2 linked regions of the Homo sapiens genome follow. The protein of the gene in region 1 purifies or fractionates together with the protein of each later gene. This does not show direct contact. Each region holds a gene or a part of one and is shown in the gene's direction. Other genes may lie near its edges.

The links.
Region 2: the proteins of MBNL2 (region 1) and ACOX1 purify together in Homo sapiens (affinity purification with mass spectrometry; 3 studies listed by BioGRID and IntAct, with this or other methods). This does not show direct contact.

The regions. Positions count from the first base shown.
Region 1 is NC_000013.11:97,215,523-97,227,095, forward strand, and holds the start of MBNL2 (muscleblind-like protein 2), read left to right. Parts: upstream 1-6,810; 5' UTR 6,811-7,009; intron 7,010-11,573. UniProt on the Homo sapiens protein: Mediates pre-mRNA alternative splicing regulation. Acts either as activator or repressor of splicing on specific pre-mRNA targets. Inhibits cardiac troponin-T (TNNT2) pre-mRNA exon inclusion but induces insulin receptor (IR) pre-mRNA exon inclusion in muscle.
Region 2 is NC_000017.11:75,953,627-75,964,237, reverse strand, and holds part of ACOX1 (peroxisomal acyl-coenzyme A oxidase 1), read left to right. Parts: intron 1-3,862; coding exon 3,863-4,023; intron 4,024-6,671; coding exon 6,672-6,779; intron 6,780-8,290; coding exon 8,291-8,410; intron 8,411-8,556; coding exon 8,557-8,672; intron 8,673-10,611. UniProt on the Homo sapiens protein: Involved in the initial and rate-limiting step of peroxisomal beta-oxidation of straight-chain saturated and unsaturated very-long-chain fatty acids.

The DNA.
Region 1 (11,573 bases):
GAAGCAATGTGGAACAGGAAATGAGAGTTGTGGTTGCAAACTGATTTCAAGCTTTGAGATAGGCATGCTACAATCCATTAAAAACTAATTCGAGTTAAGCATGTAAGAAAAATGTTTTTTTTCAAATATTTTGCATTAACTTTTCATATAACTCCTTACTTGTTAAAACATAAGCACTTACTAAGGTATTTGGATATAGCTATTTAATAAATGGAACAATTAGGTATTATTTTTGGCCTAGGGACACAGTGAAAAAAATTATGGAATACCAAGAGTGTCATGAAGCAAGGAAGTTTGGAAATCTCTACTTTAGTTATCACTTTTTTGGCATACAGAAATCACTCTCACTAGGATTCTAAGCCCTAAGGGCTATGATGATGTTGATAATGATAATAGTAGCAGTAAAAATAGTGGCTAACAGACATTGAGCACTGCTATGTACCATGTTCTATGCTAAGGGAGTCTCACACATGATTTCATTTACATGCTTTATGCAATTTGCTTCCTCCTATTTTCCTTAACCCAGAAAATGTTAGTCCTAATTTTCCCATCTTCTGCCTCTAGACCTACTGGAGAAAAATTAAAAACCAGTTGACATTTCTTGCGATAAATTCAGGAAAAAACACCATAACTTTTTTTTTCTGAAAATTATAAAACCAATTTTCTATTCCCTGCTGCATTTTCAACCAACATGTTAAAAAAAATACTAATCTCTTCGAAAGTATGTAAATTTTCTCCAGAATCCTAAATAGAAATCAATCAACCAAAATGAATTCAGCACCACTCCATGTTCGGCATTGTGGATGACGAAAAGTACTTTAATGCAAGGTCTGTACCCTCAGGGGGCTTATGATTTGGTTTATACATGAAATAACTAGAAAAAAAAGTAAAAAATAGCAGTACATACTAAAGGACAAAGAGGCGGGATAGGCTTGAAACATTATGTTGAGAGAGAAATAAGCCCTAAGATTGAATAATCACAGACCAGGCCCGTCAGCAACTTACCTTTCTGTCTCATCTCTCTCTTGCTATGAACAACTTTTTCTTCCTTTCTAGGGACCAGGCCATCTCTTCCAGTAAACCAAACACTACCATCTGTCCTAAGACACCTATCCTTTTCTATTCAAAGGGAGACTCTGTTTCTCAGGAAATCACCATGATTTTAAACATCATCAAACATTAATTTTCTCCTTGACTATAAGCTTGCTAACTTTGGTATGCCCAGCAAAGGAGATTACTTCATAACTGCATTGTGCCTTTCAGCTTTTATGCATTGCTTCTTTTCCTTCTCCGGTCCAACTTTAAATTCGTGCATGTGTGCTTGTGTGTGTGTGTGCATGCATGGATATATATTATTACATATGTAGTATATTTACACATACATAGAGTATAATATATAATACACATATAATGTATAATATGCATATTATATACATAATATAAAATGTATACATAATACATAATATATACGTAATACATATTATAGAATATAGAATATACATATAACATAATATACACATAATATGTAATATATACATATATACACATATGTGTTGTATATAATATATGATATATACATATCATATACAGTATGCATATAATATATAGTACACATATTATATATAATAATTATACATTATACATAATATATATGTCTCTATGGCTTCTCTACCAATTTTTTTACTTAAGCCCTGTAACTGTCTTTATCACCTTATTACCAGTGCCATTTCCAAGTTTATCCATTTAACCATTCAACAACTATTCAGAAAGTGTCTGCTATTATGCAATGCATGTTCTAGGCACTGGGGATAAACTGATGAATAGGAAAGACATGGTTCATTCCCTCATAGATTCTAGCGAGGTACATAAACAAGCAAGACATGTTTACTATGTACTGTGACAATTGCTACGATGAATAAAATGTCAAGGTGCCGTGAGAGTCATGGTGGTCAAAGAAGGCTTCCTGGAGGAGGTGATGTGTACATTGGGTGTTGCTGGATAGAAAGATGTTAGATGGGTGTGAAAGGAATAGAAGATTTTTCATGAAGAAGGAATCCAGGCTCTAAATTAGAAAAGACATGACACACCTGAGGGACTAAAGTTAGTTTAATAATACTGGATGTAAAGGTAGGAAGGAAGTGACTTCAAGAGGAGGGTGAAAGAAGATAGTTGGGAACTAGTTAGGGGACTTCTCTGGAAGATAATGAGGAGACATGGAGTGAGTTTATGCATGTAAACATTTTTAAAAAGATGATTTTGGCTGAGGTGTGGTAAATGGAGTGAAAGGTGAGGGGCAAAATTGGAGGCAGAGAGGTAAGGAACAGGTAAAAGGTGGTGGGGGGTTTAATTAGGGGCCCAACAGTAAAGATGGAGAGGAGTGGATAGATTCCAGAGACAGGAATTCACAGGGTGTGGGACCATTTGGTTGTTGGTGATGATAAAGAGTTAGGCATCAAAGATGGTGGCTCCATTTACCAAAGTGGGAAACGTAAGAGAAATGATGCTTTCACTTATTGAAATGGGAAATGATCAAATAAAAAATGATTTTAGTTTGGGACAAGGTAAAAATGAGTCATCTCTGGTACATTTAGGTGAAGAATTGGGCCGGCTGGGCACAGTGGCTCACGCCTGTAATCCCAGCACTTTGGGAGGCTGAGGAGGTCGGATCATGAGGTCAGGAGATTGAGACCATCCTGGATAGCACGGTGAAATCCCATCTCTACTAAAAATATAAAAAATTAGCTGGGCGTGGTGGCGGGTGCCTGTAGTCCCAGCTACTTGGGAGACTGAAGCAGGAGAATGGCGTGAACCCGGGAGGCGGAGTTTGCAGTGAGCCAAGATCGCGCCACTACACTCCAGCCTGGGCGACAGAGCGAGACTCTGTCTCAAAAAAAAACAAAAACAAAACAAAACAAAACAAAAAAAAAAAACTGGGCCTAGAGGTCAAAAGAAAAGGATGGAGTGATAGATCTCGAATTTATCAAACTGTACAAGACAACTGACAATTTCTATTGGGCAAATTCGAAGGTACTGTTTTGTATTTTCTTTCCTCTGGCCACCTCCTTTACTTGAATATAGTTGATATCTTCTTGCTACTTGTTCTTTAGTTTCTCAAACATTCTGCTTTCTAGTTAGCATGTCATGACCTCAGGAAAAATTAAGCTTCTATCCAGAGTTTCCAGGAACTTATGTAGATATAGAAAAATAAGGAAAGAAGAAGGAGGAGGAGGAAAAGGAGAAAGAAGAGGAAGAAGAGAAAAAAGAAAAAAGATTAAGTCCAGCTTGGATCTGTAGGACATTGTACCCATCAATTAATTCATTTAACATACATGTGTTACGGAGCGCCTCCACCGTGTGCCACGAACATACTAGATTAGATGTTAGAGAGTCAATTGTGACTTCTGAGGCCAACAGTCTGGCTCAGAAGGTAGACCTTAAGTAAATAAATAACAATAACCAAATTAATGTATAACCATCCCCTGTAATAAGTGCTATGAAGCAAACAACATCCATAAACATTTTGGTGCTCAAAGAATAGTCCGTGGACAAGAGCCATCAGTGTCACCTGGGAGCTTGTTAGAAAAGCAGAATTTCAGTATCCACCCAAGAACTATGGAGATGGGATCTGCATTTTAACAAGACCCCTGGGAGATTTGCATGCACATTAACATTTGAGATGCACTGCTCTGGAGTTCACAGGGCTATGAGAGAAAACAAGAAGTAGATCTGAACTCATCCTGTGGGTCAGGGAAGGGTTCCCTGAACAGACGGCCTCTGGCTAAGCTAGAGAAGCAGGCAGGGGCTACATGGCACAGAGCCTCATGGGCCATGTTGAGGGCTTTTATCTTTTTCCTAAAAGCAATCTAAAGAGAGTTAAAGGTTGTCTTAGTCAACTCAGGCTGCCATAGACTGGGTGGCTTATACAACAGAAGTTTGTTTTCTCATAGTTCTGGAGGCTGAAAGTCCAACGTCAGAGTGCCAGCATGGTCAGGTTCTGGTGAGGTCTCTGTTCCTGGCTTGCAGAGAGCTGCTTTCTTGCTGTGTCTTCACATGGTAAAGGGAGAGAGAAACAGGCCTCTTTCTGGTGTCTCAGAAGAACACAAATCCCATCGTGAAGACTCCACCCTCACGACCTCATCTAAATTGCCTCCCAAAAGTCCCATCTCCAAATACCTTCCTATTGAGGGCTAGGACTTCCACATATAAATGTTAGGGGGACACAATTCAGTCCACAGCAAAGGTTTTACACAAAGGAGTGTGGAAAAATTAGACTTTTGTTTTTTAATTCCTGTTCTGACTGAAGTGTGAAAAAAGGTTTGAAGGGGTCAAGAATATATTCAGGAGACCAGTTAAGGGGCTATTTAAATCATCATGATAAAAGATACCGATAGCTTGGACAAAGCCACTGGTAGAGATGAAGCAAAGTGAAACATTTCTAAATATTTAGGTGTTAAACCTGAAAGACTTTGATAATGGATTTCAAATGGTGGTTGAAGAAGGAGGTTTAAGAATGACTGCCAGGTTTTTAGCTCATGCAGTTGGATGAATATGATATCAATTCTTGAGATAGGAATCATGAAGTCAGCAAGTTTGTGCATGGCATTTTGCTAACTGCAATGAACAATGCATTTAGAAATACCAGTAAGAATGGCTATCATTAGTGAGCATTTATTATGTGCCAGTCACTGCATAGACATTTTGTGTGCATTATCTTAATTAATATACGACACAAGCCTTGATTTCTGAGATGGAAAAATCAACTCAGGCAAGCTAACTACAGAAGACTACATTGTTAAGGGTTTCAAAGCGTCTGGTACAATAAACAATACAGAATGCTTTCACAGGAGAACATCAGAGAGGGTAATGTGGCCACAGAAGACAAGACAGAATAAAGGGAAAGGTAAGCTGAGGTCTAAAGATTGAGTAAGGCAGAAATAAGCATGACTCCATCAGGAAGTTCACTTGGGAAAACAGTGGAGAAAAAGTTGAGTTGAAAGGGAGAGCCCAGATTATGAAGGCCCTTGAAAGTCTATAATTCAGATTTTATAGAGAGAAAGGTTTGAATGTGAAAGGAACATGACTTTACATGATTTTAAAAAACCCGTCTGGCAACAAGGGAGCTTGAAGATGAGGAGGCCTGAGTTCCAGAGACTGCCTTGTTAGCATTTGTGTTTTCCAGGTAATAGGTCAGAGTTCTGGCCTACCTGGGAGGGAAAATCAACAAGGCTTAGTTTCATTGGTTGAGAATGGGGGAATGTGTCAAAGATAACTGAAGTTTCAGGAATGGGATTCATGGAATGATAGTTTCAAAGACAGCAGAGGGAGATGAGGAAGAGGAGAATCACAAATCTGTTTAAGTATATTAATAATTAAAAGTAGTTTGTATCTGTTTGACCACAGAACTAATTTAAATTTCCAGAAGTATTACAGTAGATGAAAGCCTGCAAGTTAGGATATGTGATAGAATTACATGGGGAAGACAAAGAATGTAAGTATAAAAACTGAGGGGAATAAAGCATGGTAGTTATTGAAGAAAGTAGCCTAGAAATTATATGAAATATTATGTTTTTAAGATGCAATGGCAAAATAAAAAGAAAGCATTCCATTGCATTCTGTTGCTTCATTACAGATGCGCTGAACAGTTGCTTATAAAAATCGTGCATTGGGTTCAACCTTTCAGATGAATAAAGGCTTTGTTCTGTCTTGGTCTCATCATGTAATCATCATACTTTTTTTTTCTCAAAATGTGGTATTTAGGGGAGGAAAATGTATGCTTGTTGTGTTTGCTCAATGCCATATGTTTTTGAGTTTTTGTTTTCAAGGCATACAGAAATGCTGTAGACTGGGAAATAAATAAATAAATAAATAAATAAATAACCCTTCCTAAACTTTCTCTTCTTCTGCTTTATCTCAGGAAACTCCAGCACCTCCTAGAACATCTTTTGTGGAATGGCACCTCATGGGGGCCCTTGGATCATGTACCCCTTGTATTCAACAGTAAACATCTTCCTATAATCATTGCTTCATTAACGATAATGTGAGCCAATGCACAGTATTTATCAAATGGCATCTAAGATGGTTAAAGCACACCTAATCCTCTCGTGGGTGCCTGCCAAGAGTAGAAAAGGGTAGTGTATAGATATCAATTTTATTGTCCAGCATTCCCTAATCGAAGTCCCAAGTGGTCTGAAAACTTAGACGAAAGATAAATGGGCCGCAGTAATTAACCACTGCAATAACAGATGTTATACAGGAAACCTGTGTGTGCCAGAGCTATAAGCATGTTTTGATTTTGAATACGCACTTGGGCTAGCACATTCTTCCTCAATAATGGAAATATGTAAATGTTTTGTAAGGTATTAACTGCCATGGCAGACGTTGAATTATTTTTCCTTTAAAAAACATATACATATGCTTTGTCAGATAGTCCAAGGACTTCAGTTTCATGTACAACCTGGATTTCTTTGGAATCTGCGGAGTTTCACATTTTCCCAAGTGTTCACGGTGAAGCTCCTGGCTTCGAGCTGGCTGTCTTCAAGGGTGTTTTCTTGAGCTACCCCTCTCTCTGCTCTGCCAATTATGTGCCACTTTGTCTTGGTGCTATGATTGCTTTCTTCTGAGAGGGAAATTCCTCTTTCATCAGTATGGATGCACTGTTTTTACACACTGCAAGTGCTGTGTTACTGTGTCAGTCATCCTATTAGGGCCAGTTTCAGACGAGTAGGGCTGACGAGCTGGCTGGGGATTGGCTGGCCCCGGCTGGGAGGGATTTGTCGGAAGGAAGGGCTGCAGCTTACAGCAACAGAGTTTAGACTGTCTTTGCTTCATCATCTGAAGGTAAAATTTTCCAGATACGGCAGACGGCTTTCAGAGTACAATAAACAGGGAATGAGAACTATTTACATGGAAGTTTCTTTCTCATGATGCGGTGGAGAAGCCTCGGCCACTTGGTTCTGCCAGATGTTCCTGGGGTTACTGTAAATGGGAAGGACAGGCAGAGCTAAACAAGGTAGGAGAATCGCCCCCCTTTTTTGAATGTTTAAAGAGTTTGCTGCAGTATGCTGCATTCCATGTGTGCTGCTTACGGGAGCCAGGGAAACTGGATTCCACTAATTCAATTGTAATACTTGCGGGGGACCCTGGAGTTTTACGTAACATTTTGATTTGAGAAAAAGAAATGGCAAAGCTTGAATCTATGCCGCCTGTTTGGGGTGAGGCAAGAAATCGAGTTTTTATGCAAAGAATCGATTCATTTATTATATTATTTTTTAAAAACCATTTGAATTCTTTGGAGCAATCTTATTTTCTTGCTGTGAAAAATTGTTATATTGCCATAGCTAGTTCCCAAATAGATAAAGTTTACATGGATCCTATTATTTGAAAACAGACTTGCAATTAAGGATTAAAAAAAAATTCATGGTAAATAATCATCGGTTGAATGTTTGGCCAAACGTATGTGTCTATTTATTAAAAATTAGGGACCTACCTAGCTCTACAATGCTACAGCTTTAATTGAGTTTCAAAAGCACATTTTAAACAACCTAGCAAGAGGTAGCTTTCTGGCAAGTTTTCGATACTGTAGTTCAATGTTTACATTTCTTTTCCTGGCATGTCTGAGCCTTTGTTTCCAGCTTAAAAGTGGAACCATTATATTCAAAAGTAAAGCTGGGTTAATAATGCTTACTGCAATTATCTGATCTTTATGCATTTTTAATGAGAACACACAGCCAGCAGAATAATTTAATGAGGGCAGGCTAGCTTTTAAAGCTGTGTTTTCACTATGCCGAACCATATCAACTTTCTCGCTGAGAAGCAGCAGTGAGAAATGATGGAGAAGATTTATTTTTAACACACTTGGCCCAGGAGAAGGAAAGGATATATTTGCTAAAGAATTCTTTCTGCCCTTTTCCGTTTTAAATTTCTGCCAGGCATGAGGAAACTGTGCTTTTTTGTTAGGCCTCGGAAGCATGTGTTTACAATAAATGTGTAACATTTTTAGAATAGTTAGCAAGCACTGAAGCGAAGAAAAAAATCTGACTTGCCTAACCACCACCACCTTGAATGTTCTACAAGAAACATTACTGTCCCTTTAAAAGACAAAGGTTAAGTGGAAAGCTATTTGTTAATTGGGTAATGTGTGTGTTTTGGGGACAATAAGGTTTTTAAAAAAGGCAGGGGGAACATTCTTATAATCTTTAAATAAGAGGAAGTTTCTTCAGCTATCCTACTTGTTTTGCAAGGAGCAGTAGAACTACTCATTTAAATAAGGGCAATGCCACGTAGATTCTTCTAGACCCACTGTTTTTACTTTCAAGGAGAAGTGCAGGACACTAGCCCAGAACTTCTGACGTCATCCCCCAACTATTTCTGCTGTGTGTTCCTTTATTCGAGCTTGTGGAGAGGAATATTTCTTTATGTCCTGGCCAGGAACATTCTAACTCCCCACTGGCAGGACTTAAGTTATGTCTTTATATTTTCGCCTGTCTTTTGTAAATTGTAAACCTGTCCCCTCATAAATAGGGCATCTTCTTGTACCTGCCACATGTCGGGCCGGTCAGCACAGGTTTTCTGCAGGGCTTCTGGCTGGGCTGGCAAAAAGCAGCAGGGAGCAGGGCAAAGCTTTTTTTCTGGCCTGACTCCCCCTTGGTGCAGCCCAGCGCTGCCACCTGGGTGGATGGTCCCCGGGGCCCTATTCCCAGTTGCTCCAGAGCCACTATTTAGGATCCAGGTTGTGCCACCAAGTTCAAGGCTGGTTGTGATGGTGAGAACAGCTGCTTTCATAGAAAAATCATCATGTCCTAGCACAGATGGCCCCAAGCAGGGGAAGTACAATACTGCAGGCTGCAAATCCATGTCACAGGTGGCAACCTTGGTCACAGAGATCGGGGGAAGGGTAATGTTTACAAAGGAACCTTTTAAAAAAGATTTTGACTGGAGCACATTGGAGTTCTCGGGAGTTCCCAAAGCTAATTTGTGTCTCCTCTCTGACTACTCACGTAGTTTTGAGCAAGTGCCTACCTTGATTTTTCTGTCTTTTAATAGAATTGAATCATACTTGCTACACTTTCCCTCATCATTTAGCATTTTGAGACCTTGACCTTTTACCAAAAAAAAAAAAAAAAAAAAAAAAGTTGTTTGTCTCTTGGCACATTGAGCTATTTAAAGTACAAAGGGATAAAACCTCGGTATTAAGAAACTGTTGGCAAACACCTTAGAGTATTAAGATACATAGTCATATACACAAAACCCTTCACTCTACTTTGTGCTCATGTAAATTTTTTAGGGATACTTTTTCTTAGTTCAACAAATGAAATTTCCAAGGAAATCAAAGCGTTGTTGTTTGCATTTTTTCCATCGATCTAATCTAATATACTAGAAGCTCTGCAAAGCACACTATTCTGGCCACAGGCCTTGTAGTGCCCAAAACATTTAATGCTGTTTTTCCTTTGACTTTTGTGTTAAATTTGTGAAAGTGGAGTAAATAAGAGAAAAAACAAGAGGGAAGGAGAAAAATATGCTTGTGAAATATACTGGTTAGGTAGCTTTACTGGTTAACAGCCTGCCTTCTCTCTGCTAGTTGTTTCAATTTGCTGTTGCTATGGTGAAAACAAATCAATATCACATGGCTACCAGCCAGTCCCGCGCTCAGGGAGTGCCATAGAAATTCAAGATCAGGTACTCAAGATTCCAAGCAAGAATTGGGAAAAGAGGATTTAGATGCTGAGCTTAAGAGAATTCCTTATAGTAGAATAAGTAGGTTCAATCTCTCATGCATTTTCTCTTCCTTTTTTCCTGTACTTTCCTACCGATAACAAGAAAAAGATGAAAAGGAAGGTATACTGATTTGTTTACATTTCCAAAATGACAAAACAGATTATCAACATAGAAATAGGTTGGCAACATTGCAAGGGGTGAAGGATTCTGATTCGGGAAAAGGTGGATAACTACAAGACATGTTGGTTGTTGAAAACATAGTTTTGGGGGCCTTTACCATCTTCAGGTACAGCTACATGTCAGAGCTGGCTGGGTTGTGCCAAGCAGAGAAACCTGGCAACTCTAGGGGGCAGGTGGGCAGTGGAGATAAAGGGGGTTATAAAAAGGTAGGGAGGTGTGGGCATAAAAATCAACAAGCAAGAAAGCCCAGAGAGAGCTGCAGGTCAAGAGTCAGGCCAGGCAAGCACAGATCCCTGGGGCATGGCAGAACAGGAGAGGACAGTTCGCCCTGTTCACGAAATCTGCTCAAGACCCAAGCTAAAGGCCTAGCAAAGAAAGGCAGGAAATAGCTGCAAAGAGAAGTAAAGGTGTCATGGGCCCAGGCATCCTTTCCGGAAGGGTCGACTCAACTGGATGAGCATGGATGTCCACTGCTGGGGAGAGCAAAGAGCTTGATATTTTAATGCTTTGGTTTCTCTCAGAAGAATGAGGCAGGAAGACTTAACCGGGCTTTGTAAATTAGTTAACATACTATTTTTTTTTCTCCAGTTTTATACTCTTCTCAGTTTTTTTTTTCTTTTAAAAAATGTGCACAAACTATTTGTTGCAGCCGTGATAATATTCGTAGTAAAGAGCCAAAGGTGCTGCGTGGCTGGGTCTGCATCAGGCCTGGGCCTCCGACTGCACGGCTCCAACTACACAGTTGTTTATGGAGACCAGTCCCGGCCTCCTCTGCTGAGAGTAAAAACAGGTGTGAAAGGTAAGGCCTAAGGGTTTCTTTTGTAAACCTGAGCTCTGAGGCTGATGGACGAGTTTTGGGCTGGCCTGCCCTCCTCAATACAGCAGAAACGCTTGGTAATAAAAGTGGACTCAATAATTTACCTTAGTGTTTTGACAAAGAATGCATTGTCTGAATTATACTAGGTAGTATATTCCATCAATCAGTCAACAAGTGTTTATTAAACACCTCTGGGCTTCCCTGGCTTTTGCTATTTGGTGAGAAACCCAACTCAGTAACCTAATACCTGCCTTTGTGTGTGTGTACAAAAATAAATGATGCAAAATTGTAAGTTTCAAAGACTTGAATAACTTTATTGGCTAATATTAATTTAGCATTGTTAACCATCAGATTAATTTTAGGCTTGGGGCAGTTTTAGTGATTGGGGGAGAACAAGAGATGGACTTTTGAGTTTTAGGTATCTGTATGTATGTACTTTCTTGACCTCTGTTATATTTCTCCAGATAAGTACTGTTTAAATAACATATAAAGATGTCAGATGAGCAATAGATAGATAAGAATGGTGCAAAAAAAAATCAAAATATGAAGCTACTGAGAGCAATTTCTGAGTCTCAGCATACTGAGTTTTGGCCCCAAAGTGCCTGGGGAAAATGGACATATCATCTAAAAAGCTGTAAATACCAGCCAACAACAGGAAGTCTTAGACTCCTGTCCCACACTTCTGAGCTGCAGGGTGTGGGGGAAGCCCCATGCCTTTATCTCACTGTCTCTATCTCTAGCAAGGAAACCTGTTTCCTGACTCTGCAGAATTTCGCTTTCCCCCTTTTTCCTTAAAAGCAGAGTTACAAAAAAAAAAAACAAAAAAAAAATCAAAAAAAAAAAATATATTTCCTTTTGAAAC
Region 2 (10,611 bases), on another chromosome or scaffold:
TCCCATGAATGTGTTTTTCTTGGGATTTCCGCTATTAATTTTTTTTTTTTTTTTTTTTTGAGATGGAGTCTTGTCCCCCAGGCTAGAATGCAGTGGTGCGATCTTGGCTCACTGCAACCTCTGCCTCCCAGGTTCAAGCAATTCTCGTGCCTCACCCTCCTGAGTAGCTGGGATAACCAGCGCCTGCCACCATGCCCAGCTAATTTTTGTATTTTTAGTAGAGATGGGGTTTCACCATGTTGCCCAGGCTGGTCTCGAACTCCTGACCTCAAGTGATCCGCCCACCTTGGCCCCCCAAAGTACTGGGATTATAGGCATGAGCCACCGTGCCTGGCCTTTTTTTTTTTTTAATTTTGAAATGATTGTAGAGTCATAGGAAGTTACAAAAATAGTACCAGGAAACCCTGTGAACCCGTCACGGAGTCTCTACCAGTGGTGACACCTTGTGGGATTTCCATTTTTGAGGCTTCTAAGGACAGCCCTGGCTTTTTCAGCATGTCTTTTTAGCATCTTCATTACAGTCACAGTCTTTTTTTTTTTTTAGATAGAGTCTTGCTCTGTTGCCAGGCTGGAGTTCAGTGGCACGATCTCCGTTCACTGCAGCCTCCGCCTCCCGGGTTCAAGGATTCTTCTACCCCAGCCTCCCGAGTAGCTGGGATTAGAGGCTGGCGCTGCCACACCTGGCTAATTTTTGTATTTTTAGTAGAGAGGGGTTTCACCTTGTTGGCCAGGATGGTCTCGATCTCCTGATCTCATGATCCGCCCACCTTGGCCTCCCAAAGTGCTGGGATTACAGGTGTGAGCCACCGCGCCCGGCCTGCAGTCACAGTCTTTAGTCCATGCTATGCTTGTGCAGTAATTTCCCCAGCTAGGAGACAGGACGAGGTGACAAGGTGGTTCTTTTTTTAAAAAATAGGTTTAGGGGGTACAAGTGCCATTTCCTTACATGTATATATTATGTAATGGTGAAGTCTGGGATTTTGCAGTACCCATTGCCCAAATAGTGAACATAGTACCCAGTAGGTAACTTTTCAGGCCTCATACCCCTCCCATCCTTCCACATTCTGGAGCCTCCAGTGTCTGTTTTGTTCGTTGTTGTTTTTTGTTTTTCGAGACAGAGTCTCTGTCGCCCAGGCTGGAGTGCAGTGGTGCCATCGTGGCTCACTGCAACCTTTGCCTCCTGGGTTCAAGTGATTCTCCTGCCTCAGCCTCCCAAGTAGCTGGGATTACAGGTACCCACCACCACGCCCAGCTAGTTTTTGTATTTTTAGTAGAGATGGGGTTTCACCCTGTTGACCAGGCTGGTCTTGAACTCCAACCTCAGGTGATCCCCCTGCCTCGGCCTCCCAAAGTGCTGGGATTACAGGCGTGAGCCACCGCGCCTGGCCCCTGTGTCTGTTACTCCATTCTGCATGTCCATGTTTTACCCCTTGCTCAGCTCCCATGGTGACGAGATTCTTGTCCTTGTTTTGCCATTTTCTTTTTTCCCTGAGCAAGGCATTTAATTCATCTCAGCCTTAATTTCTCCTCTGTAAAATGAGGGATTCAGTCACACATACTTTGATTTTTCTTTTTCTAAAGTGTGATTGCTTAGCTGAAAGCCTAGCCACTAGATTGGAAGAAGTCATTGATTAGCACTTGTCTGAGCAGTGTGCCCTGGTTCTTTTCCTCCCTACCTTGCAAGGAACAAACAGCAATTTAAAAACTGAACTGTCATTTATGCTCATTTCAAAGACACATAGAATGATAAGAGCAATATGGAGTTGACGGATTTGGAGCTGGCAATTACACAGAATACCAGTAATGTGGAAAAATGCAAAGGCCTATAGAACGACTTCCTATCCCTAGCAAAAATTCACACAGAATCCTGTCCCCTGCACGTTTTAAGTGGAAAAGAATGACCCCAGAAAGTTGATTTAAAACTAATAAAGCTGTTTATTATCATTAATGATAATTTCTGTATAATTGTCACGGAGAGCTTATGCATGAATCTGTAACTTGTCGTTATTATGGTCTTCACTAGAAATTGCATGTCTTTTTTAATTTCTGAAATAAATTATTGGGATGAAGAGCACTGTCAGTTTTTGTATTAAAGTGTTTCAGTAGAGCGTGGCCGAATATTTGACATGATGAATCTGAATGAAATGATCAGAGCTATGTGAGGAATATGGTTCTACGCTGGATGTTTTGTGGACAAAACAGAAAAAAAATCCCAGCCTAGAAGCATTATTGAAATTGCATCGAGGAAAAACTATAATCTGGGGGTCATACTGTCACTCTGAGAGAACTACTATGTTCTGTCTCGCTTTCTCATCAGAGGAAATCCTTGTACCAGTACCACTCAAATTCTCTGTTCTCCGACTCCTGGCTTCAAGCGATTCTGCCTCAGCATCCCAAGTAGCTGGGATTACAGGCACATGCCACCACACCCAGCAAATTCTCCATTCTATACAACTTTTTTTTTTTTTTTTTTTTTTTGAGACAGAGTCTCGCTCTGTTGCCCAGGCTGGAGTGCAGTGGTGTGATCTCGGCTCACTGCAACCACCGCCTCCCAGGTTCTCCTGCCTCAGTCTCCCAAGTAGCTTGGATTACAGGCATGTGCCACCACACCTGGCTGATTTTGTATATTTAGTAGAGATGGGGTCTCACCATGTTGGTCAGGCTGGTCTTGAACTCCTGACCTCAGGTGATCCGCCCACCTTGGCCTCTCAAAGTGCTGGGATTACAGGCATGAGCCACGGTGCCCGGCCTTTTTTTTTTTTTTTTTTTTTTGTATTTTTAGTAGAAACGGGATTTCACTATGTTGGCCAGGCTGGTCTCAAACTCCTGACCTCAAGTGATCCGCCTGCGTCAGCCTCCCAAAGTGCTAGGATTACAGGCATGAGCCACCATGCCTGGCCCTATACAACTTTTCAAATTCTCTCTCTCTTTTTTTTTTTTTTTTTGAGATGGAGTCTCACTGTGTCGCCCAGGCTAGAATGCAGTGGTGTTATCTTAGCTCACTGCAACCTCTGCCTCCTGGGTTGGAGCAATTCTCCTGCCTCAGCCTCCTGAGTAGCTGGGATTACAGGTGTGCACCACCATGCCTGCTTAATTTTTGTATTTTTAGTAGAGACAGGGTTTCGCCATGTTGGCCAGGCTGGTCTTGAACTCCTGACCTCAGGTGATCCACCCACCTCGGCCTCTCAGAGTGCTGAGATTATAGGTGGGAGCCACTGCACCTGGCCAATTCTCTCTTATTTATTTATTTATTTTTTTTGAGACAGAGTCTCACTCTGTCACCCAGGCTGGAATGCAGTGGGCATGATCTCGGCTCACTGCAACCTCCGCCTCCTAGGTTCAAGCGATTTTCCTGCCTCAGGCTCCCAAATAGCTGGGACTACTGGCTGGCGCCACCACGTTCAGCTGATTTTTGTATTTTTAGTAGAGTCAGGGCTTTGCCATGTTGGCCAGGCTGGTCTCGAACTCCTGACTTAAGGTGATCTGACCGCCTTGGCCTCCCAAAGTGCTGAGATTGTAGGCATGATCCACTGCACTGGCCTCTCAAATTTTCTTTATTTCCTTTGATTTAATTCCTGGGCGAGGATCCTCTGCCTTGCACGTGTGGTTTTGTGCTGCATTGGCTTTGGAATCAGTAACCAATCCCTGTCCTCGTACTCCTTGCCGACTCAGGAAAAATGGAAATTAACAAGAGCTATAAAGTAATACAGAAAGGGACAGTGCTCCCATCTATGATTAAGTGCACGCAACTAATTCATACTTAAGGTTTTTTTGTCTCCTTCCCTTGCTCTATTTAAATTGCTGATTCTCTCACACCTGATGACTCTTCTCTCAAATGCCCATCCTTGATATTTCCTCGAAGTTTTGTGCACCGAGGGCGGCCTGAGCCTCTGGATCTTCACTTGGGCATGTTCCTGCCCACCTTGCTTCACCAGGCAACTGCGGAGCAGCAGGAGCGCTTCTTCATGCCCGCCTGGAACTTGGAGATCATTGGCACTTATGCCCAGACAGAGATGGGTCATGGTATGGAGTATTCAGTCTACCTTCTGGGTTGGGCGGGCCCCTGTGAGCTTACCATGTGTGGAGTGCCCACCATGTGCCATCGATGGTGTGTCGATGTTCTATGGTCTGTTTAAATGAGCTCTTTCTGCAGAGTCCAGGTTTTGGTATAAACACTGCTTTGGTGAGTGGGAATTAAAGACCATGATACTGATAAAATGATTGTCCTTTTTATACCATAGTTCCCCTTCAGAGGGTCAAGAATTGCAAATCAGGCCTTATTTACCAAGTGGTTTTTCAATGTTACTGAGGTTGTATAGAATCTGTGTGCATATACAACCCGAAGCTGTTTTTTTCTTCATTACTATCTGATTACCTTTACTACTGATACCTTAATGAGTACAAATTCCAGAAGAAATACAAATAATAGTTTGTGTACTCTTGGATTTGCTTGAGGGAAATGAGTAGCTTATAACTGACGTGTGTGACATTTTGGAGTTATTTGTACTTTGAGTCAATCAGTAGTTCTGCAAGTGACTTGGCTGGAGAGTGAAAAAACCAAGATAAGCCGAACTTGCAGGCATTTGGTTTCAGACTCTGTATCTCCACCTTTCATTGATCTTTCCACCCCCCACCTGCTTTCTTCATGCACCTGGGTGGGCTGGAGGTGGCCGCTGTTCCTCTTTGTATCTTCTCTGAATTGGGTCCGTGTTTGCCATTCATTTGCTTATGGCTTCTCTTTTTCTGCTCTGACGTTTCAGAAAAACTGGTCTAGTGTGTATTTGCCACTTGCTCCTTATTTCTATACAGCTGCTGCTTTTTATTTGGTGTTGAATAGTATTTTACAGGATTTTCATGAGACTCCAAGTGGAATACTATTTGTTTCAGTTGTGCTTTTGAAAACATTTTGTCCTTATCTGTTCTGTTTAATGTTATCTGCTTTTCTGTAAAAGCTGCTTCTTTGATGAAAGATGTCTGTGTCTGATTTGTTGACTCCCACTCGGGAAAGTTGTGGATTGCACATAAGTTGGTTATTCAACTTGGAAGCTTCTAAATGTTTCAAAGTGTGTTTAATGAGGTCTAAGCGTTATGAAAGCAGATTGGTAAAAGGTTCCCAACGTTTGCTTTAGTACAGTATTTTTGTAGAGACTGCCACCTAGAACATTTTTCTATGACTCTTTTCAAATAATTTTGATATATTTGTGTTAAGATTTAAAACATAAGATCCTGTCTATCCCAGTACACATAAGAAACTGGAAACTCTTCCTTGCCACATTAATGAACCAGCAGGACTAAGTTAGGCCTGCCATTGGAAATCTCTAGGGTCAACTGAGACCTTATTATTGGACCTTTAGGAATTTTTAAAAGTCACATTTCAGGTCATTTCCCCAATAACAGTTATACTTTTATACTTTTTTTTTTTTTTTTTTTGAGACGGAGTCGTGCTCTGTCGCCCAGGCTGGAGTGCAGTGGCGCGATCTCAGCTCACTGCAAGCTCCACCTTCCGGGTTCACGCCATTCTCCTGCCTCAGCCTCCCGAGTAGCTGGGACTACAGGCACCCACCACCATGCCCAGCTAATTTTTTGTATTTTTAGTAGAGACGGGGTTTCGCCGTGTTAACCAGGATGGTCTCGATCTCCTGACTTTGTGATCCGCCCGCCTTGGCCCCCCAAAGTGCTGGGATTACAGGCGTGAGCCACCGTGCCCAGCTTTAATTTTTTTGTTGTTTTTTTAGTAGAGACGGGGTTTCACCACTTTAGCCAGGATGGTCTCAATCTCCTGACCTCGTGATCCCCCCACCTCGGCCTCCCAAAGTGCTGGGATTACAGGCTTGAGCCACTGTGCCTGGCCTTTTTCTTTTTCTTTTTCTTTTTTTTTTTTTTTTGAGATGGAGTCTTGCTCTGCCACCCAGGCTGGAGTGCGGTGGCACAATCTTGGCTCACTGCAACCTCCACCTCCCGGGTTCAAGCAATTCTCCTGCCTCAGCCTCCTTAGTAGCTGGGACTACAGGCGCATGCCACAATGCCTGGCTAATTTTTTGTATTTTTAGTAGAGACGGGTTTCACCATGTTAGCCAGGATGGACTCGATCTCCTGACCTCGTGATCCACCCGCCTCGGCCTCCTAAAGTGCTGGGATTACAGGCATGAGCCACCACGCACAGCCATACATTTTTAATTTATACGAATTTTGGCTGAAATGTCTTCCTCTCACATGTTATCTCATTCTTCTCATTAGTACAGAATTCAAGAATGTTGAATTGGTGTGGTTAACACAATACATATGACTTGAAATTGGCATACTTGCAACTCAGAGATGGGTTTAAAAAGACAGTTAACATCCCTGTTAAATTCATATATTGTGATCTTAAAAATGTGATTCTAAGTTGCCTTTATATTTTCTTTCAGTTGCTGTAAATAAATGTAACAAATCAAATACAGAAATGGAACATGCATGACACTTAGATTTTCAACTTAATAGGAAACCATCAGATAGTGTGGGAAATTCAGTGTCTTGGTTATCAACCAGTTGTAGCTCATCTACAGGTGTTTTTTGTTAGATTTTGTTTTTCTCTGAGATATGAGAGTTTAAAGGACTGTGCAGGAAATTTTTCCTTGTGCCTATTTTTTTCCCCATCTCTTAACTGAAGTCAATGTAATTTATCTCCTTAGGAACTCACCTTCGAGGCTTGGAAACCACAGCCACGTATGACCCTGAAACCCAGGAGTTCATTCTCAACAGTCCTACTGTGACCTCCATTAAATGGTGGCCTGGTGGGCGTAAGTGAATTTTTCAGCATTTATTGGATGTTTTGAAGGTTTGTCATGAGATTTTGCTTAGAATGTAGAGCTTTTATGATAATGTCGGCCAGACTTGGTGGTGAAATCCTAACACTTTGGGAGGCTGAGGTGGGCAGATCACTTGAGGTCAGGAATTCAAGACCAGCCTGGTTAATATGCTGAAACCCCATCTCTACTAAAAATACAAAAATTAGCCGGGTGTGGTGGCGCACACCTGTAGTCCCAGCTACTTGGGAGGCTGAGGCAGGAGAATCACTTGAACCCGGGAAGGTTGCAATGAGCCAAGATTGCACCATTGCACTCCAGCCTGGGCATCACAGCAAGACTTTGTCTCAAAAACAACCCAACAAACAAATATATGTGTGTGTGGTGTGTGTACATAGAGGGGTGTGTGTGTGTGTATATAGACAGAGAGAGGTGTGTGTGTGTATATATATATATATATATATATATATATATATATATAGAGAGAGAGAGAGAGAGAGAGAGAGAGAGAGAGAGAGAGAGAGAGAGAGAGAGAGAGAGAGGAAAGCCAGGCATAGCGGCACATACCTATAGACCTATAGTCCTGGCTACTCAGGAGGCTGAGGTGGGAGGACCACTTGAGCCCAAGAGTTCAAGCCTGCAGTGAGCTACTATCTGTGATCATGCCACTGCACTCCAGCCTGGGTGACAGAGTGAAACCCTGTCTCTTAAAAAAAAAAAAGAAAAAAATTTAAATAGTTTTAACACAAACTTTTTTTTTTTTTTGAGATGGAGTCTCACTGTGTCACCCAGGTTGGAGTACAGTGGTGTGATCTCCGCTCACTGCAACCTCCACCTTCTGGGTTCAAGCGATTCTCCTGCCTCAGCCTCCTGAGTAGCTGGGACTACAGGAGCGTGCCACCACACCCAACTAATTTTTGTATTTTTAGTAGAGATGGGATTTCATCATGTTGGCCAGGCTGGTCTCAAACTCCTGACCTCTGGTCTGCCCGCCTCGGCCTCCCAAAGTGCTGGAATTACAGGCGCGAGCCACCGTGCCCGGCTGACCCGAAACTTTTATATCTTCTTATTCCATTCTGAGTTATTATCTTGGAATATATATTTCCAATACAGTTAGTGGTTGAAGGATTTTGTTATTCACATTATATATTTTATTTATTTATAATTTATATGTAAGAAGCCACATGTAGCTAGTGATTACTGTTTTGGACAGCACTGCCTTAAGGGATAACAAGGAAGTAGTTTAAATTAATATTCTTATTTTTATCCTAAAATTTTCTCTACGTAAATGTATGAGAAATAAGTAGAAAAGAAAGTAATAACTATTAGCTTAAGGGAATTTCTTTCTGAAAGCTAGGTGTGATGCTGTCAGCAGAAAGGCTTTCTGGACACATACTATTGGTTTAGTCTAGTGTTAGATTTAACATATTCTTTCTTCTTTTTTCTACCCTTTAAAAATGTATGAACGTTTGCCCACCCCTCCCTTGTTCTCTTTGATATTACAGTTGGAAAGACTTCAAATCATGCAATAGTTCTTGCCCAGCTCATCACTAAGGGGAAATGCTATGGATTACATGCCTTTATCGTACCTATTCGTGAAATCGGGACCCATAAGCCTTTGCCAGGTAAGAACTGTTCATCTGATGTTGAGATGAAAATGAAACTGAGCACTTTCTTCTGCAAAAGGTAGAATGCCCAACTGAAGAGGCGGAGCAAAAGCCAGAAATTCCAGAGCATAAACATCTCGTGACTGTCCTTTCATCTGTGGTAGGAATTACCGTTGGTGACATCGGCCCCAAATTTGGTTATGATGAGATAGACAATGGCTACCTCAAAATGGACAACCATCGTATTCCCAGAGAAAACATGCTGATGAAGTATGCCCAGGTATGTTTTGATAGAAAATAAAGCAGAGGCATCAAACAGTGGAGTTGAGTGGCTGTTACTCACAATAGGGTTAGAATGGTCTGTTCTTTTAGAAGGTAATAACAGCAGGGCACACTGGCATATTCCTGTTATCCCAGCACTTTGGGAGGCTGAGTGCGTGGATGACTTGAGCCCAGGAGCTCAAGATCAGTCTGGGCAACATAGTGAGAACCCATCTCTACAAAAAGTAAAAAAATCTAGCTGGGTATGGTGGCACACGTGTGTAGTCCCAGCTACTTGGGAGACTGGGGTGGGAGGATCACTTGAGCCTGGGAGGCCGAGGCTACAGTGAGCTGTGATTATGCCACCGTACTCCAGCCTAGATGACAGTGAGACCTTGTCTCAAAAAAAAAAAGGAGGCTGGGCGCAGTGGCTCACACCTGTAATTCCAGCACTTTTGGGAGGCTGAGGCGGGAAGATCATGAGGTCAAGAGATGGAGACCATCCTGGCCAACATGGTGAAACCCCATCTCTACTAAAAATACCAAAAAATTAGCTGGGCGTGGTGGTGCGCACCTGTAGTCCCAGCTACTCAGGAGGCTGAGGCAGGAGAATAGCTTGAACCCGGGAGGCGGAGGTTGCAGTGAGCAGAGATCATGACACTGCACTCCAGCTTGGCAACAGAGTGAGACTCCGTCTCATAAAAGGAGGGAATAAGGCTGGGCGCGGTGGCTCATGCCTGTAGTCCCAGCACTTTGGGAGGCCAAGGAGGATGGATCATAAGGTCAGGAATTCAAGACCAGCCTGACCAATATGGTGAAAACCTGTCTCTACTAAAAATACAAAGATTAGCCGGGTGTGATGGCACACGCCTGTAATCTCAGCTACTCAGGAGGCTGAGGCAGGAGAATCGCTTGAACCCAGGAGGCAGAGGTTGCAGTAAGTCGAGATCACACCACTGCACTCCAGCCTAGGCAATACAGCGAGACTCTGTCTCAAAAAAAAAAAAAAAAAAAAAGGAGCTAATAATGCATTTTTCCTTCTGATGCCCCTTTTTTTTTTTTTTGAGAGAGAGAGTCTCTGTCACCCATGCTGGAGTGCAGTGGCGTGATCTTGGCTCACTGCAACCTCCGCCTCCTGGGTTCAAGCGATTCTCCTGCCTCAGCCTCCCAAGTAGCTGGGATTACAGGCATGCGCCACCACACCCAGCTAATTGTTTTGTATTTTTAGTAGAGGTGGGGTTTCACCCTGTTGGCCAGGCTGGTCTCAAACTCCTGACCTCAGGGGACCCTCTTGCCTCGGCCTCCCAAAGTGCTAGGATTACAGGCATGAGCCACCGCACCCAGCATTTTTTGGTTTTTTTTTTTTTTTGAGACAGAGTCTTGCTCTGTCACCCAGGCTGGAGTGCAGTGGCGCAATCTCAGCTCACTGAAACCTCCGCCTCCCAGGTTCAAGCGATTCTCCTGTCTCAGCTCCTGAGTAGCTGGGATTACAGGCACGTGCCACCACACGCAGCTAATTTTTGTATTTTTAGTAGAGATGGGGTTTCACCATGTTGGTCAGGCTGGTCTCGAATTCCTGACCTCTTGATCTGTCTGCCTTGGCCTCCCAAAGTGCTGGGATTACAGGCGTGAGCCATCACGCCCACTCTGATGCTTCTTTTACTGCGACAGTGAAATCAGAAACAGTTGTCAGGGTTGAAGGACATATTTTGATTTGCTAAACCAATGATTCTCAAACTTTTGCATGCGTTAGAATCACCTGGAAGGCCAGTTAAAGCCCAGGTTGCTAGGCCCTACCCTGGAGTTTCTGATTCAGTTGGTCAGGGTGGGGACTAAGATGTAGTATTTCATGCAAGTTGCCAGGTGATGCTGATGCTGCTATTCCAGGGACCACACTTTGAGAACCACTGAACTGCCTCTTGGGCTTAAAAGAAGGAAGTATCAGTTCCACGTTCTTC